Regions from separate parts of the Homo sapiens genome. Here regions 2, 3 and 4 are each reported to be linked to region 1. The links are microRNA targets in miRTarBase. Many come from high-throughput screens and were not tested one by one. Region 1 holds a microRNA gene; each other region holds the end of a gene's coding sequence.
What was found. Region 1 holds the annotated microRNA hsa-miR-6870-5p (UGGGGGAGAUGGGGGUUGA, at 1,636-1,654, shown strand). A microRNA usually pairs through its seed, bases 2 to 8, with sites in the 3' UTR of a target mRNA and lowers its output. Matches are read on the target gene's strand: a 7mer-m8 pairs with bases 2 to 8, a 7mer-A1 pairs with bases 2 to 7 and ends in A, and an 8mer does both.

Region 2: the mRNA of POC1A is a reported target of hsa-miR-6870-5p. Seed matches in the 3' UTR shown: 7mer-m8 at 3,885-3,891.
Region 3: miRTarBase lists NKAPD1 as a target of hsa-miR-6870-5p. Seed matches in the 3' UTR shown: 7mer-A1 at 3,290-3,296.
Region 4: miRTarBase lists ATXN7L3 as a target of hsa-miR-6870-5p. Seed matches in the 3' UTR shown: 7mer-m8 at 3,581-3,587, 7mer-m8 at 3,225-3,231 and 7mer-m8 at 2,088-2,094.

What each region holds. Positions count from the first base shown.
Region 1 is chr20:10,647,490-10,651,325 of GRCh38, reverse strand. It overlaps MIR6870 (microRNA 6870), which reads left to right and starts at 1,631; the gene lies at 1,631-1,690. JAG1 (jagged canonical Notch ligand 1) reads left to right here. Exons shown (of 26, transcript NM_000214.3): 9 at 966-1,079; 10 at 1,691-1,804; 11 at 2,219-2,265; 12 at 2,604-2,777; 13 at 3,216-3,366. RefSeq lists silencers at 1-145, 3,610-3,659.
Region 2 is chr3:52,071,684-52,076,063 of GRCh38, forward strand. POC1A (POC1 centriolar protein A) reads right to left here. Exons shown (of 11, transcript NM_015426.5): 11 at 3,543-4,302. The coding sequence ends at 4,204. Among named protein-coding and RNA genes, the nearest start is that of LINC00696, 8.8 kb to the left of the region's middle.
Region 3 is chr11:112,081,680-112,086,319 of GRCh38, forward strand. NKAPD1 (NKAP domain containing 1) reads left to right here. Exons shown (of 6, transcript NM_018195.4): 5 at 303-356; 6 at 786-3,471. The coding sequence ends at 1,293. TIMM8B (translocase of inner mitochondrial membrane 8 homolog B) reads right to left here. Exons shown (of 2, transcript NM_012459.4): 2 at 3,121-3,783. The coding sequence ends at 3,616. Among named protein-coding and RNA genes, the nearest start is that of TIMM8B, 2.8 kb to the right of the region's middle. RefSeq lists an enhancer at 4,632-4,640.
Region 4 is chr17:44,189,924-44,194,555 of GRCh38, forward strand. It overlaps ATXN7L3 (ataxin 7 like 3), which reads right to left. Exons shown (of 13, transcript NM_001382309.1): 12 at 4,594-4,632; 13 at 1,882-4,488. The coding sequence ends at 4,340. TMUB2 (transmembrane and ubiquitin like domain containing 2) reads left to right here. Exons shown (of 4, transcript NM_001076674.3): 4 at 578-2,006. The coding sequence ends at 941. Among named protein-coding and RNA genes, the nearest start is that of TMUB2, 5.3 kb to the left of the region's middle.

The sequences.
Region 1 (3,836 bases):
GCTTCCTGGAGCTGGCCACCTTCCAATTGTGGTTATTCTTCTTGCAGCCATGGAGAGGCTGCCTTCAGGGGAGGTTGTCACTTACTACTGGATTCTGTCATAGGGCCAGGGGGCCCCAGAGAAGAACCTGGCCTGCAGAGTTCCTTTGGCTGTGAGACAGGGCTGTATATCAGAATCACCTGGGCTGCTTTACAGTGTAAATCTCTGGGTCCCCCAGATTCCCTCCAGAATCGGGGAGTCCATGGTCTTTGATAAACTTCTGGAATTCTGCAGTGCAGCCAGGTCTGAGAACCGCTGTCATCAGCACCCCAGGTGTGGTTATGGATGTGGATTTCTGGGGTCAGATTGCCTGTGCTGGTCCTAGGCCCCCACCTGTCACTTGCGGAACTCCAGCAGGCCACAGAAGCTCCCCGGGCCCTCTTTAAATGGCACAGTAGCAATTCCCATCTCCGAGGTTGTCATAAAGACACAAAAGTGAATACTTCATAAATTGTTAGGAGTTGTCTCTGGTCAGAGCAGAAGTGGAGAATGCAGCCTCTAGGTGTGCTATTTTGGGCAAACTCTGTAAGCAAATGAGAGGAATAAGGTTTTCCACCTGTAAAGAACTATTTTTCCTGACTTCTTAGCTACTTCTGAGCCATGATGAAACTTTTCTTTAAAAATAAAGATTAGGCAGATAGAGATGTCCTGTGTTCCTCCTGGGCGGATGCTCCGTCAGTATCCAGCTGTCTTTCTCCCCCACTGCTTAGGTTGGGGATTACATGAACTGGGGCAGTGGGGGATTTAAAGCTAAAATCAAGGCTTCGGCCTTATCGTCACCGTCCCACTTGTCCTGCTGTAGCTTTCCTTGTAGCAGGTGTCTGGCTCTTCAATGACAGCCCCTCATGTAAGAGGTGATGTTAAAGGATCTAATTGTCAGATGGATTGAATTAAATTGTCAACCCCCTCCTTTTCTTGTTGACCAGACATTGATGACTGTTCTCCTAATAACTGTTCCCACGGGGGCACCTGCCAGGACCTGGTTAACGGATTTAAGTGTGTGTGCCCCCCACAGTGGACTGGGAAAACGTGCCAGTTAGGTAAGAACATCCCTGTGACTGTAATTTTTATACCAAGGTTGGCTTTGATTGTCAAAGCCATTACAGAAGACGAGCGTGTGGCCGGCAGTGTGAGTTCACACTCCATCATGCTAAGAAGTAATTTATTATCAAGAGTCTAGCAGGCCTGGGAGAAATAACTTGAATGCAAATGGACTAGCTCTTTTAGGCCCTGTGGGAAAGTCGTGGGATTCCTTGAACCATGTCAATCGTCTGTCCGAGGAGTGTTCAGCTGGGTTCCAAAAGGGGATGATCTCATGAGGAATGAGCTGTCTGCATTCTTTTTGCCACATTTAAATCCCAGCAACTAGGCTGCCTGGGTTTTGCACAGAAATGCCTGGTGGCTTTCTGCTGTTTTGTTGGGGGCTGGTTAACTAGCAGCTGGAAAGTTATCAATTAGGGTTCTTATTGGATAATAGCTAGGGAGAGGGATCAGATGCTTAAAATAGAGGGAACCTCTAGTATCTTTTATTTAGCTAGCTTATTAAAATGTCTCATGTCTCAGACAAACTCTGGCCTGTTCTTTTTTTTTCCAAGGTGGGGGAGATGGGGGTTGAACTTCATTTCTCATGCTCATCCCCATCTCCTTTCAGATGCAAATGAATGTGAGGCCAAACCTTGTGTAAACGCCAAATCCTGTAAGAATCTCATTGCCAGCTACTACTGCGACTGTCTTCCCGGCTGGATGGGTCAGAATTGTGACATAAGTGAGTGACTTTGTTTCCATTTTGATTTTCATGAAACTTGGGTAGCCGACTTGCTGGTCCGTACTGGGGCTCCAGTCCTAGGACTTGAGCAGTAGAAGGAAAACCTTAGAGTGGGAATGGTTTTTTGAGAGGGAGTGGTCAGGGCAGCAGTGAAAACATACACTTTATCAGGCTCATTAGCTGCGAAAACCAGCCATATTCTGATAATGTGGCTGAAACAATGATGTGAAGTTTCACTCCCTCATTCTGGAAGAATTAGGGAGGGTCCCCACCCAGCGTAATAACCTTATCTCACGGAAAGCACACAGGAAATCTGATTTGAAACTTATCTATCCTGAGCTGAGAAGGCTTTTCAATTAAGCCCAATTTCACTGTAAATTACCTCTTTAAAATGATGACTTATTTATTTTTTAGATATTAATGACTGCCTTGGCCAGTGTCAGAATGACGCCTCCTGTCGGGTATGTAAATCTTTGCTTAAATCAAAACTTTGACAATTGACAACAAATCTTTAGATTTGTGCGACACTAGGAGAGCTCTGTCCCTGTGAGATTTAAAAATTTGGGTGAAAAAAGAGTCTCTTGGAAGTTTCGCTAGGGCTTATGTTACCCCAGCCTCGTGGGAGTCATTTTGAAGGCATGCACATAGAAATTCCTCTAACCACTTTCAGAGGTTTAGCATTTGGCTATTTCAGTGAACCAGCTAAACCGCAACAGTCATGCTAAACCGCTGAAGCCCTGTGTTTGTGGAATACATAGAAAAAAAGCATGTGTCTCTCTCTCCCCTTCTCCTCTTCTAGGATTTGGTTAATGGTTATCGCTGTATCTGTCCACCTGGCTATGCAGGCGATCACTGTGAGAGAGACATCGATGAATGTGCCAGCAACCCCTGTTTGAATGGGGGTCACTGTCAGAATGAAATCAACAGATTCCAGTGTCTGTGTCCCACTGGTTTCTCTGGAAACCTCTGTCAGGTGAGTGGTGGCAAAACCTCAGATGGCCAAGTTTTTAGAGCAGAGCCGCTGCCTCCTCCGCTTCCCTTTACTTTTCCCTCAGCTCTTGTGTCTGGAATTTCCTAACATCTATTAACATCCTATTGATGAGAGAGTCTCTGCTAGACAAATGCTGGTGGAAGGAGATACTGACGAATTATTTTCTTCTTAGTGTCTTCGTCTTTGTGTTCTTTTTGGTTCCCTCCACCCCCTCTTGTGCTCCCTCTCCCACTCTGCCCCGTTGTTTCAAATACTGGACATTGGCAGTCCCTACAGCATAGAGATGTATCTTACAGGGTGTCTCCTAATAGAAACCGAAGGAACTGTCAGATTCCAGTGCCTGCTGCCCCAGAGAAGTTATCGTGACACCTTTGTTTTACTCTGATCCCTCCCCCTTTTCGCTGTTCCTGATATTTGCAGCTGGACATCGATTATTGTGAGCCTAATCCCTGCCAGAACGGTGCCCAGTGCTACAACCGTGCCAGTGACTATTTCTGCAAGTGCCCCGAGGACTATGAGGGCAAGAACTGCTCACACCTGAAAGACCACTGCCGCACGACCCCCTGTGAAGGTACCTCCCTTCTCCCGGGACCTGGCTGTCTCCAGACTTGCTCCTTTTGTCCCCACTTACTACCACTGCCCCTTGTTACACTTGAGAAGTAATGTATTGGTGAGGAGGACCTCTATAGTGAAATGATCCTGCCTGTGTAGCGGGCCGCAACACGTGGAAACAATCTATTCCGGCCTGCCAGTGGGAGAGCCGTGTCTACAAGTAGCCCAGGGGAGAGAATGTGAAATCCATTTAGCATTCCTGTTCTGGGGTGGGCTGATGTGCAACGCTGAGGCAAATGCCTGAGAACAACACTGTCAACAGAACTTCCTGCAACGGCAGACAGAGGGGGATGTTCTGTATCTGCACGGTCAGGTATGGGAGCCCCAGGCCATGTGGACTGTGACTAGTGTAACTAGAAACTGATTTTATTTCATTTTAGTTCATTTAAATGTAAATAGCCACATGTGGCCGGTGGCTGCTGTATTAGG
Region 2 (4,380 bases), not on the chromosome of region 1:
CAATCCCTTCTCACCACCGGGGACACCCATGGCAGGGGCCATGGGATCAGGAGATGAGAACTCTAGCTGCCTAACATTACAAAGCCAGAGGGACCCTGGGACCACGAGCCCCCCCACCATCCCCACTGGCACATGGGGCCAAGTTTCAGGGAAGGGGCCTGACTCGCCAGGCCAGTGGTGGGATAACACCAATGGTCACACACTAACCGCACTTAACTTGCACCAGCCACTGTAGTGAGTGCCCAATGACACAAGCACTATTGTATAGAGGCCCAAAAAGGTCACAGAACTAGTCGGAGAGAGCGAGGGTTTGGACCTGGGCCATGGGTTGGGGGCCTCCTGACCTCACCACTTTGCCCTTGCCCCACAGAGCACCCCCCCGCCCACCCACCACTGAGAAGTCATGATGCTGTGGCAATCAAATCACAGGACAGAAGGCCAAGGACTGTGCTGGGTGGCAGGATGGCAGAGTTCCCACAGCAGGCTGGCATGTGCTACCTGAGTCTCTGAAGTGGGTGACTAGGTGGCCACAAGCCTGTGGCAACCCCTCGACACAGCCTGTCAGGCGCTCCCAGGGTGTGGTGACTTGGGTGAGAGGCGGAAAGCCTTGCCACAGGCCGGGGCTGGACTTGATGGCTTCTACCTGCAAGCTGCCTGCCTTGGTCATCTCAGCCACCTCTCAGCTTCTCCAGCAGGAAGTGCAGGTTTATCCCAGGAACCCACAGAAACTGGACAATGGTAGGCAGCAGGCTGCAGTTTAAATCACAGACATCTATTCTTTTATTTCACATTGGGAAAATTAGGGCATGAAGGCGCTGGGGAGGCAAACGATGGGGAATTGCTGCTGATATGCACTTACTGACAAAAATGCTAAACTAACTTCATCTTCCTAACACAAAAGAGATTCCTGCAATTTGGTTTCTGAGAGCTCAGTTACCAAATCCAAAATTAGGAGAGATGACGGCTGAGCCGAGCCATTTGCATTTCCAGAAGGGCTGCTTTTGTGCTTGGCAGCAAGAGTGGGGGATCAGTAGCAGCCCCAGCTACAGGGAGCCATCGGGTAGGGCTGGCAGAGCGTCGCTTAGGGAGATTCTGCAAGAAAGCTCCATCATGTGGCCCCCACACCTCGCCAAGCCACCTCAAGCCCACCCAGGCCCCACACTCCTTGCTGCCTGTGAGGGCCCTACACTCCCAGGCAGTGTGGTGTGTAGCTCAGGGGGCCTGCAGCATCTCCACGGGGAGGGGGTGAGGGTACAGAACTGAGGCTAGAGGGACAATGCCCACAGCAGTCACAGCTGCCTAGGACCCCGTTTCCCTCCCACCAGATTCTCACTCAGAGCAGTGAGGTCCTGAGTCAAGCCTCGCATGAGCAAGAAAAGGAACTCAAGAAGAACTCAGGCCCCAGGTGAGAGCCTTGGCACCCACCCCACCCCCAGCTCTGCCCTCAGCATGGTGATACACATTGACCCCCTGGCTTGGTGGAGGCAGTCTCTGTCCTGTTTTGTTTTTGTTGTTTGTTTTTGAGACGGAGATTTGCTCTGTCCCCCAGGCTGGAGTGCAGTGGCATGATCTCGGCTCACTGCAACCTCCGCCTCCTGGGTTCAAGCAATTCTCCTGCCTCAGCCTTCTGAGTAGCTGGGATTACAGGCGTGAGCCACCATGCCCGGCTAATTTTTGTATTTTTAGTAGAGACGGGGTTTCTCCATGTTGGCCAGGCTGGTCTTGAACTCCTGGCCTCAAGTGATCCTCCCGCCTCGGCCTCCCAAAGTGCTGGGATTACAGGCGTGAGCCACCGCACCTGGCCTGTGCTGTTTTAAAGAGCAGCATTCCAAGAAGAACATCCTGCCTACAAATTCCAGGTCTGGCTGGTGGCTCCATCAAGGGAGGGGTGTGGGCGTGGACACCCAGACCACTCTAGCAGAGCCCTCTGACAGTCCATGGGGCTTGAGCGTGGGCCTATCCAAGCTTGGCGCTGGCGCTGGCTCTGGCCTGTCTCTATCTGGACAGCCCACGTCAGGCTGTCCCAGGACACGCCGATATCATACTACAAGAAGTGTGTGGGAGTGAGTCCTTCCTCCTGACCCCTTACATCTAGTAACCAGTGGAGCTTCCACTGGCAGTCAACAATCAGGGACAAATACCACACCACTACCCCTAAGACCACCTCCTGCAACTCCACATGTCCTCCAGCAGAGAAAGGTGGATTTCATAGAGATTCCAAACTCGATCCTGGTGTAAACTGAAGACAGGGGTGATGGCAACCTCGGTCTGGCCTGAGAGCAAGACCTGCCACACAACGCCTTGGAGACCCTGCACATGTCCTGCTGCCCCCAGAGGGGCCGTCATCTGTCTCTGGAGATGACCTTGCCCTGGGCTGGTTGCTCAAATCATCAGAATCTCCACCCATGGTAGGTCCAAGCCCAGGTCCGGAAGCCACAACAGGCAGCCCAGTGCTGGTCTGGTGGCAGGAGGGCTGGCATGGGAGGGAACCGACACGGCTGGCCCCATAAGTTGCACCTCCTCTTAGCAGGCTGACCTGCAGTTGCCCAGACTCTACTTCAAAGCCTCCTGAGGTAGCCAAGAGACTTACCTGCCAGCATGGACCAGCAGGCCTGCCAGGCTCGTCCACACACCGGCAGGGCCACGTGGGAAAAGTGCGGCAGGTCCCAGCAGCTGCCAGAGCACCCTGAGCCCGCAGCTTCTTCCCATCGACAGTGCAGGGGGAGGATGGTGTTGAGAGCAGACCCTGTAGATCCAGTGGGACTGGTGGGGATGGGGAGTCCCACTGGGGGACTGATGGGGGATGGGCTTCTCTTGAGCACCTGCTCTGCACTGAGCACAGTGCATTGCTTACCTTGTCACCAGAGGAGGGTATCACAACCACTTCACACAATAAGAACCCAAGATTCAGAGAGGTTAGGTCACAATGTTGAGGTCACACAGCTGGCAACAGGCAGCTCCCTCCCCACCCAGTGTAGGCCAGAGAAAGCGTCCCGTCATCAGGACTCAACACAGCTGCCCTCTAGTCAGTCCAGGCTCTGAGGCATGCAGGCTCTGCTTCCACCTGGAGGCTGCAGAGGCTGTGAACCCACTGACCACGTGGTACTGACAGCTCCTGGGACGATCTAACACCACCTCCCATTCCCCAGGGCAGGGCAGGTGTGTTTGAGGATAAAGACCTCCTTGGCTGGCTGAGCCCCAAGAAGCTGAAGACGGAAGGCACGGGCGACACACAGACACAGGGAAAACATTTGTCCTGGCTTCCCCAGCACAGGGGCAGAGGGAGGACCCTATGGAAGCCCTCAGGAGCAAATGGAAACTTGGGTGCCTGAGGCCTCTGAGTCCCAACAGAAGCAGTCAGTGGGGGCCAGCCAGAGGGAGGTGGGTGCATGCAAGGGCTCTGACTGCCCTTGTTCCCCGACACCCTGAACAGCTGCAAACAGGGGGGTCCTGGCCTCAGAGGCAATCCTGGCAGAGGCCGTCCCAAGTCACCATTCTCATTCTGTTTGGGCCCTGGGGATGGGAAGATTGATTAAGTGTCATCCAGCATAAGCCACTCCTGCAACAAGTGCAATGAAGTCAGGTTTAATTTTGAGATTCCTGTGCCCTCACTCACGCAAGGAGGAAGTCACCTGGCTCCAGTGAACACGTGTGGAACAGAAATCAGGGCCACTGAAAAGCCACCACCCACTTGAGAGGGCTTGTTCTCAACAAACCTGACTCAGATGGGCCCACTTTGGGCCTTTAGTCAGATTTAGAGAAAACCCCCGGCTCATCCAATCAATGTGCAATCAATTTCTACACCATGGCAGAGGTAGGAAAAGCCAGTCACATGTCCAAATGATGAGTGAAAATCAAGGCATCGTGGAGCCACCTCCTCCAGAGGGGGAGCCACAATCTCAGGACCCCGAAGGAGCAGACATTTTCAAGTGGCTCCTTTACATTAAGCAAAATGTGGTCCTCTCATTCGGGTCTGAAGCATCATTTGTGTGTGAGCCCGGCCCACTGGGGACCTCTGGCTGCCAGGTGGAGAGCCTCCTGGTGCAGATAGCAAGGTGGAGGGCAGAACTGCAAAAATCCAGGGCTCCAGTATGGATGTGATTCCCACAGAGTTCAGTCCCCTTTATTTACCCAAGTCCCATGGTACAAATCCCTGGCCTGCCACCTGCAAATCCACCGAGCTCCTGATTCCTGCTCCCCTGATCATGGTGTTGCTCTCTGCATGATTAGCTGCTGGTTCTCCAGACACTGCTTCAGCTTGTCTTCTGTCAGTGTCAACCGCTGCTCCAGAATGGAGACTGTCTGCAAAATAAACAGTGGTTGGGTCAGAACACAGAAGGGCCGCCAGGCTGCTCTAGGGACCCCCTTGGCCAGTCCCCA
Region 3 (4,640 bases), not on the chromosome of region 1:
GTGTTTTTGGAAAAGTGCTTCATAGCTAAAGAGCAGAGTGTAAGAGTTCGTTAGTGTTTCTTAAGGAAAGCAATGGCAAGTTCTCTTACAAATGGACAAAATAATCTTGTATGTCTGAAGTGATAGTGTACAGTACAGGAAATGTAGCTGTTACTGAGCTATAATGGGGGCTTGGTTCTACCATATCTCTACTTTGTGTTTATGTTTGTGTATGCATGTACTCCAAAGTCTTTCTAATGTTGCTTTAATTTCCAAAAATGTATGCATTGCTTTAACAATACATGTGATGTGTCATATTACAGATGGGGTCACAGTGGTTATAAAGAGTTATACCCTGAAGAATTTGAAACAGACAGGTAAGGAAAATAGGCTTACTGAAAGAAACTAAGATGGTACAAAATCTGTATTATAAATTGATTTCTTAACTTTTACGAAGAATATACTTGCCATCAAAAATGTAGCTAGAGAAACAATAGGTGATTTAGTTAGGAGGTGATCCCTGTTTTCCCATTCTCTGGTTGATGTTTGGCATGTCTGTAAGCATTTTGGTTTTTATATATAGTATTCCATACAGTAACTCAGTATGGCAGCTTAGAATTTTTACCTTCATTTTAAAGATGAGGAAACAAAAACTCAATGAGAATATTAAAGTGTTAAAGTATACATTAAAGTGCTTATTTAAAATTCAGATGTTAACCTCAATTTTTTAATCTAGAATGCAAAATATTAAAATAATACGCTTTTTTTTTACATAAAAGCTTCTATTTTTTAACTTTTCTTATTAGTAGTGATCAGCAAGATATTACCAACGGGAAGAAAACATCTCCCCAGGTAAAGTCATCTACCCATGAATCCCGCAAACACAAGAAGTCAAAGAAATCCCACAAAAAAAAGCAGAAAAAAAGGTCACACAAAAAACAGAAGAAAAGCAAAAAGGAAGCCACAGATATAACAGCAGATTCCTCGAGTGAGTTCTCAGAAGAAACTGGGGCTTCTGGTACAAGGAAAGGGAAACAACCACATAAACGCAAGAAAAAATCCAGGAAAAAGTCTCTCAAAAAACCTGCTTTATTCTTAGAGGCAGAAAGTAACACTTCACATTCAGATGATTCAGCATCCAGCAGTTCTGAGGAAAGTGAGGAAAGAGACACTAAGAAAACCAAAAGGAAAAAGAGAGAGAAAAAAGCCCATACCTCTGTAGCCAACAATGAAATACAGGAGAGGACAAACAAACGCACAAATTGGAAAGTAGCTACAGATGAAAGGTCTGCTGAGAGCTCAGAGGATGACTAAATGGGAAACACTTTTGTTTTCCACATGACTGTGGATATTTACAGTTCTTACTCCTTGTGGTTTTGCCAGTGACTCTTGTTCAGCACGGGGCCTGAGGTCAGAGCTGTCTTGTGCCATCTGTATGTTCTGACAGACGTCTTGTCTTCTATTTTGGCGTTAAGCTTGATCCCCTTTTCTTGTTAAAAGGGAATCTGGTATTTTGTTATGAAGGTTTCTTGAAGAGATTATTTTTTTTTGCAATTAATTACGTTTAGTGTAGAGTGCATATACAGCAAATTAAAGGACCCAGAAAGCTGGATCCAATAGTGACCTGGGTACACCAATCGGAATATTGAATTTGGGGAAGTCAAGGGCTGGGATCAAGAGGTGGATTGGAACTAATGCCATGTAGGATGGTATGACAAGGCAACACTGTATTGCTCTCTGTTTATATAGCAGGTGTCACAACTAACTTGTCTTTAGCCTTGGTGCTTTGATCCTTCTATATTTTGACCCCACAGGTGTGGTCCGGTTTACTTAATCAGGACATGGGCCTAAGAACAAACCTTTTCCCTTCATGATAACATCCATAGACAACTTATTAGAAGGGACTAGAGTTTTTGCAAATTTCCCTGCTGGATGGGGCCTATAGCTATACTTAGTATATGCCTAAACATGGTAATTGGATAGTAAATGGTTTTCTAGTTCCATTGCTGTATATTTGCCTAAATGGACTTGTGTTCAAATTATTTCTTCAATTGTCATAGATAATCCTGTACCAAATGGGGAAGAATTAGGAAATAATCATGTTGTCTAATGGTACTCTGGATTCAGGGCAGCAACTGCCATTTAAATGTTGTCTTGTTCATTTCTAAATCTGTTCATGAAGTTTAGGTTTTCCCTGAAACTAAGTTGAATTATTTCCAAAATGAAACAGGCTTCTCAGGGACATATCCACTTCTTCCCAGTCTGCCTTTGGATTAAAGCACCAAGCAGAGACCACATTAATTCCCTTTGCTATACTGTGATCCTTAGTATGTTAATTCTTAAGAAACCAACATATCACTGAAAGAAGGCTGGCAGAACGCAAGTGCATTTTTTCACTGTGGGAAGAAAGATCAAGTGACGTATTATTTTTTCCTGGTTGTCACTTAATGGGCTGAGTAAAAAGCTTGAAAACTCAGACTTTCGGTCTTGGTTCTGCCACTCATTGGTTATGAGGAGGCCCAGAGCAGGTAAGTTCACCTTCCTGGCCTTACTTTCCTGATGTGTAATACGGAATTACTTCACAGTAGCATGACAGTATAAGACACCAGCAGTAGATACAACTATGATGACATTCCATGAGTTGGTATTTTTAGTTCTAACTGCTAAATTTGTTCTCTTTACGGGACAGATTTCTAATAAAGTGCTTGGTCTTAAAATACATGGTTGGACAGAGGTGCCCTATCCCTTAACTATGAGCAGGTGCTACCTTTTGGGATATTTATTTTAAATTTTAATACTTTGGTACTCAATTGTCAGTGTTCCATGGTGTGTATTTTTATTTTTGGGATTAGTGGGGGTCTAAAGGGAGAAGAATAGTCTCTAATTACTACCTCTTAACCTAAAGCAATTATTTTGTTCCTGGAGCAAGTTAAATCTTTGTTGGAAGGAGCTTTGGCCATATATTTTTTAGCATGCATTGTTTCTGTGCCCTGAAAGTACCTGAAAGGTTTTAAGCACAGACTCAGGAAAATGTGCCAGTAGAACAGGCCATCTCCAGGAAATTGGCTCTATTTGGGTCCTGACCTTCCCTTCCTCCCAAGTTAGCAGGCTTGTTCTTTCGCAAGGAATACACATCTTGCCTTTTTTTTTTTTTTTTTGCCATGTTTTCCTTTTCTTGGTCATGTATAAGCAATAAAGCTGTTTTTTGTTCTTCATCTTTCTTAACCCCAAATTTTCTTCTATGCCTTAGGCTTCGATGGTTCTTCCAACCCCCTTAATATGGCTTAGGGTGGTTTTTCAAAACCTACAATCCCCCATTTGCACTACTGGCCATGGAACATTTATTTCTAGTGTTCCTGCCAATCAGAGATCTCTATATTAAATTCTAAAATGGGATTAAAAGAAGAGTTGGAGAATTCACACTTATTGAGTAACTGATGTCATACAACCTGGAATTTCTGAATTCCAAATAAATAAATTTCACTCTTTGAACATTTCATCTTTTACTTTTTAGCACCAACAGACTTGATAACAGCCTGATGCTGATCTGACAATGGGTTGATAGCCTTCCCCCACTGACCCTTAAATCTGCTTAGTAACAAGTCCTTTGCTTCTGTCATTCTCCTGGGGGATGGCCTACTGCCCTCCTTTCTGTACAATCTGGGCAAACCGACTGGTGATGGCAAGAGTGGTGTCAATGAAGCGGTCTACACAGCTGGAGAGACAATTTTCAGTGCGAGAGTCTAGGCGATTCCCTGGCTTCTCCACACATTTATCCCAACATAACTCCATGAAGTGATGCACCTAAAAGGAAAGAAAAATAGTAACCATTGGGGTCTGCAGATAGGCCTAACTCTTGTTTATTAACTTCTCACTTTTTGACACCTGACAAAACCATTCTTTAAATCAACCACGGAGTCACTTTGGGCTCTTCTCTTTCTTCATTTCCTAATTAGTCACCAATATTGATCCAGATCCTCGTCCCTACAGATTGTACATTCTCAGGTAGGACTAATAACCTTTTATATTCCCCAAAGTAGCTAGCACCATTGTGAACCAACTAGGGAACCAATTAATTTTCCCAAACTATTGCACTCATTTTATTCCAAACCTATCCCCTAGACAAGGTAATTCTTCCATTAACCTTTTGGGGGTTATGGATCCACTCCCCAGAAAAATGCACATACAGGCACAGAAATTATGTGCACTGTCATTAGAATGTTCAGGGCCCAAAGATTTCTAGCCAGGGTTCTTGCTGGTCATCCGAGCACCCTCTTCCTCCCACCCAAAAGGAAAAAACCATTTTACCAAGAGCTTACTATTTGTGAGGCTGGGTACTAAGAAATCAGTTCTCTCTAAGGTCCTCAAGGATAGCTGTCATCACCTCCCATTTAAGAGGCGTGATTATGTAGTCCAAGGTCATGTAGCCAGCAAGAAGTCAGGCCGCGTTAGAACCATGTCCGAAGGGCTCCAAACCCTTGTTCTACATCCATAGTCTACAGCGACTACTTCAGAGTCCACCTTCCTCCGATAATGTTCTAGTCGTTTTCAAATACATTGTCGCATATGATCCTCACAATCCAGTGAGGCAGTGGGGTGACGGCGACACCAAAACCCACAGTGGATGAGTATCTTTTCTACGGGCACGTGGCCTGCAAGGA
Region 4 (4,632 bases), not on the chromosome of region 1:
TCGCTTGAACCCAGGAGGTGGAGGTTGCAGTGAGCCGAGATTGCGCCACTGCACTCCAGCCTGGGCGACAGAGTGAGACTCCATCTAAAAAAACAAAACAAACAAATACACCCCTCATTAGTTAAGGATAAAGATGAGGGGGGCCTGTCGCGGTGGCTCACGCCTGTAATCCCAGCACTTTGGGAGGCCAAGGCGGGCAGATCACAAGGTCAAGATATCAAGACCATCCTGGCCAGCATGGTGAAACCCTGTCTCTACTAAAAAAAAAAATACAAAAATTAGCTGGGCATGGTGGCGCACTCCTGTAGTCCCAGCTACTCGGGAGGGTGAGGCAGGAGAATTGCTTGAACCCGGGAGGCAGAGGTTGCAGTGAGCCGAGATCGCGCCACTGCACTCCAGCCTGGCAACAGAGTGAGACTCCGTCTCAAAAAAAAAAAAAAAAAAAAAAGGATAAAGATGAGGGAAAAAAAAATCCACCCTCCAGTTTTTCCCCACTCCCCTGCTTTGTTGGTCCAGGCCTGTTTGCCTTCTCATTCCTCACCCTCTATCTTTTCTTCCATGTCTTTCATCCTTACAGCAAATACTTCCCTGGACAAGAAAGCCAGATGAAACTGATCTACCAGGGCCGCCTGCTACAAGACCCAGCCCGCACACTGCGTTCTCTGAACATTACCGACAACTGTGTGATTCACTGCCACCGCTCACCCCCAGGGTCAGCTGTTCCAGGCCCCTCAGCCTCCTTGGCCCCCTCGGCCACTGAGCCACCCAGCCTTGGTGTCAATGTGGGCAGCCTCATGGTGCCTGTCTTTGTGGTGCTGTTGGGTGTGGTCTGGTACTTCCGAATCAATTACCGCCAATTCTTCACAGCACCTGCCACTGTCTCCCTGGTGGGAGTCACCGTCTTCTTCAGCTTCCTAGTATTTGGGATGTATGGACGATAAGGACATAGGAAGAAAATGAAAGGCATGGTCTTTCTCCTTTACGGCCTCCCCACTTTTCCTGGCCAGAGCTGGGCCCAAGGGCCGGGGAGGGAGGGGTGGAAAGGATGTGATGGAAATCTCCTCCATAGGACACAGGAGGCAAGTATGCGGCCTCCCCTTCTCATCCACAGGAGTACAGATGTCCCTCCCGTGCGAGCACAACTCAGGTAGAAATGAGGATGTCATCTTCCTTCACTTTTAGGGTCCTCTGAAGGAGTTCAAAGCTGCTGGCCAAGCTCAGTGGGGAGCCTGGGCTCTGAGATTCCCTCCCACCTGTGGTTCTGACTCTTCCCAGTGTCCTGCATGTCTGCCCCCAGCACCCAGGGCTGCCTGCAAGGGCAGCTCAGCATGGCCCCAGCACAACTCCGTAGGGAGCCTGGAGTATCCTTCCATTTCTCAGCCAAATACTCATCTTTTGAGACTGAAATCACACTGGCGGGAATGAAGATTGTGCCAGCCTTCTCTTATGGGCACCTAGCCGCCTTCACCTTCTTCCTCTACCCCTTAGCAGGAATAGGGTGTCCTCCCTTCTTTCAAAGCACTTTGCTTGCATTTTATTTTATTTTTTTAAGAGTCCTTCATAGAGCTCAGTCAGGAAGGGGATGGGGCACCAAGCCAAGCCCCCAGCATTGGGAGCGGCCAGGCCACAGCTGCTGCTCCCGTAGTCCTCAGGCTGTAAGCAAGAGACAGCACTGGCCCTTGGCCAGCGTCCTACCCTGCCCAACTCCAAGGACTGGGTATGGATTGCTGGGCCCTAGGCTCTTGCTTCTGGGGCTATTGGAGGGTCAGTGTCTGTGACTGAATAAAGTTCCATTTTGTGGTCCTGCAGCCTCTTTCTGTGACAGAGAATGGCTTTGCGCTGCCCCCAGGAAAATGGTAATGAGAGTAGGTAGGCCGGGGCTACCAACGGGAGATGCAGTTTATTTACACCAGCAGCCATGGGGGCAGAGGGAATACACAGCGTTTACAAAGTTAGCTACCTGTACAGAATGGATTACATATGCAAAAATAAAAATCTCAAGACCACAGGACAGCGTGAGCCCCACCCCCCTCCCCCAATGACCCCAGCATGCGGTAATGCCAGGCGGGTGGCCCCTGGGCATGCGGGGGGGAGTGATGCATGGAAGGAAAAGCCACCGGCCATGGAAATTAGTACAGAACCCCCCCACACACACTCAGACACAGGATACAGGGTGGACGACACCTAGCCGGGGTGGGAAGGATGGGAATTGAAACCCACACAGCCTGCTGTTAGAGGGAGGGGAGTGGGGAGCTCCTAGCCCCTGTTCAACTACATGGTAGGGGGGGCACTCTCTCCCCAGAAGGAAAAGGGTTTGTTCCCTCAGGGTCCCTGCTGGACCAAGCCCATCTCTTACCCAGCCTGGGCAGGGGGCTCTGCCCTGAGGGCGGGCCAAGGAACAATGGGGAAGTTTATGTGGACAAACCAGTTCCCAAGCTACTTCCCACTTCTCCCTCCTCCAACCAGAAGGGGGGAAAAGGGAGAGGCCACAGGGCAAAGAGTGTATTAGGGCCTGAGCTGCAGCTGCCTCTCAGAAGGGAGAGTGGCCCACAGCCTTCCTCCCTTCACCTTCAGCCCACTCCCCAGACTGCATCTGGAAGCGGCTAGAGGCCTGCTGAGATCCTCCTCTCCCTCTGGCCTCCTCTCGGAGGGAGACTACGGAGGGCCAAGAATAGAGAAGCCCAGGCCCCGGGATTTATTCTAACTCCTGCCAAAATCTGTTTGGCTTTTTAAAAAATAATCACAATTTGTGGGTTAAAAACCAATTTGCAACCAGGCATGAGCCACAATCAGAACCACCCCAGCGGGAGAGCGGAGTTCCAGACAGGGCATTGCAGCCCCATCTCTGTTGTTCCCTTAACCCTCTAGGGTCCCTAACCCGATCAGTCCAACCAGTCCTGGGTACTAACTACCCAAATGTGGGATGGCTCCTCTTGGGAAGAGGGTAGGGGACATGTCCAGCAAGTGCCAGAGAACTTGGCTCAGGGTCACCTCCACCCATGTCAGTCAGCTCTGCTCCCAGCCCAGGTCGCGGTCCTCCAGCTTGGCTCCTGGGAGTGGTGGTGCCCGCATGGAGGGGGGACGGTACATCTCTTTAGGATGTAGACCAGGCAGGTGGGCACACTGGCATGACAGTCCCACAGAGGGGCAGTGACACCCCTTCCCCTCCACTGACAACCTGGGGCACAGAGGCCACCCTCTCTTCCCACCCAACTCCTAGCAAAGGGGGAGAGGCACAAGATTAGGATTTTCCTCAGAGCCCCAAACCACAAGTACAGAATAAATAACTTAAAAGCGCTAAGGAAGGGAAACAGGGCACGCTTTGGAGGCAGGAGCGCTGAGAGGAACTGAAGCCAGTCAAGGTGAAGGGGGTGGAAGCAGCAGTTGGGAACCTGGGCTGCCCCGGTAGGGCAGTGGGGCAGGGTGGGCAGGAGGAACACGGGGCCACCCCAGGAGGGTGAGGCTGGGTCCCTTCCTGGGGCAGGGAATGAGGTAAGAAAACATTTCAAATAAAGCAGCACCGTTCCCTCTCACCTTGGGGCCCCACTCCTCACCAGCCCTGGGTCAGGGAGGAGAGGCAGGGGGAGGAATTCTGACACTTCTCCCTCTTCCTACCCTCCCTTTCCCATTCCTTGAAGCTGTAGAGGCTGGAGGCCCTTTCCTGGCACCCAACAAAAGGACAGCTCCTGCTGCCAAGGAGGCCCATGGGGACTGAGGGGAAAGGGCTGCCCCTGTGAGGGGCAGGGAAGGTGGCGGCAGTTCTGGACGCCCACCTCAGCAGACAGCACTCTGTGCCTGCCTACCCCTGGGACTGGGGGCATTTGATAAGATTCTGCACACAGACAGGACATGCCCAGCCTTGCCCCTCAGCTCCAAGCACCGGACCCATTCACATTGCTGAGGGCGGCCGAGGCAGGCCCCCTCCAGGCTCAGCTTCCAACCCACAGCCTCCCGGGTCGCCACATTGCCCCTCAGCAGGGCTTAGTCCAGTTCCTGGGGTGGGGGGCAGGCAGTGCCCTGGCACAGTGCCCAGGTCAGGCCCCTGGCCTAGCTGGACATCCAGTAACTCACAGAATAAATAGGAAAACCGCCTCCCCACCAAACTTATGTCCAAGGCATAATATGTCCAGGTCTGAGTCCTGCACGCCGAGGAGTCGTGCTCCATTGCAGAGGACTTTGACACCCCCCAGGGGCGCATAATCGGATCCTCTGCCTGCCTGGCCCACCAAGCTTCCCAAGCCCCAACCCCCAGCAGCCGTCCATTTGCCAGGCTATGCCACCTGGGTGGGGGTCAGGAGAGAGGGCTCTGCTCAGCCAAAGGCTATCCCTTGCACCCAAGTCAGTTGATGTCATCATAGATGCTGGGCGTCGGGGGTGCCGGTGGCTTTGGCTTCTTCTTCTTGTTGGAACCTAGGCCGGAGGCAGTCCCTACCAGGCTCAGATGGGATTTCTTTTTCTTGGTTTTCCGTGACTCAGAGCTGTTGGTACCTGTAGAGAAAGAGACACAAGGGATGAGAGTATGGTTATGGCAGGAGAGGTGGCACCCCCATGGCTTTGGGCACAGAGCCCCTAGGGCCCAACTGCATCACGTACCTAGACCCCATCCCTGATTTTCACTCGTCTTGGAGGAGC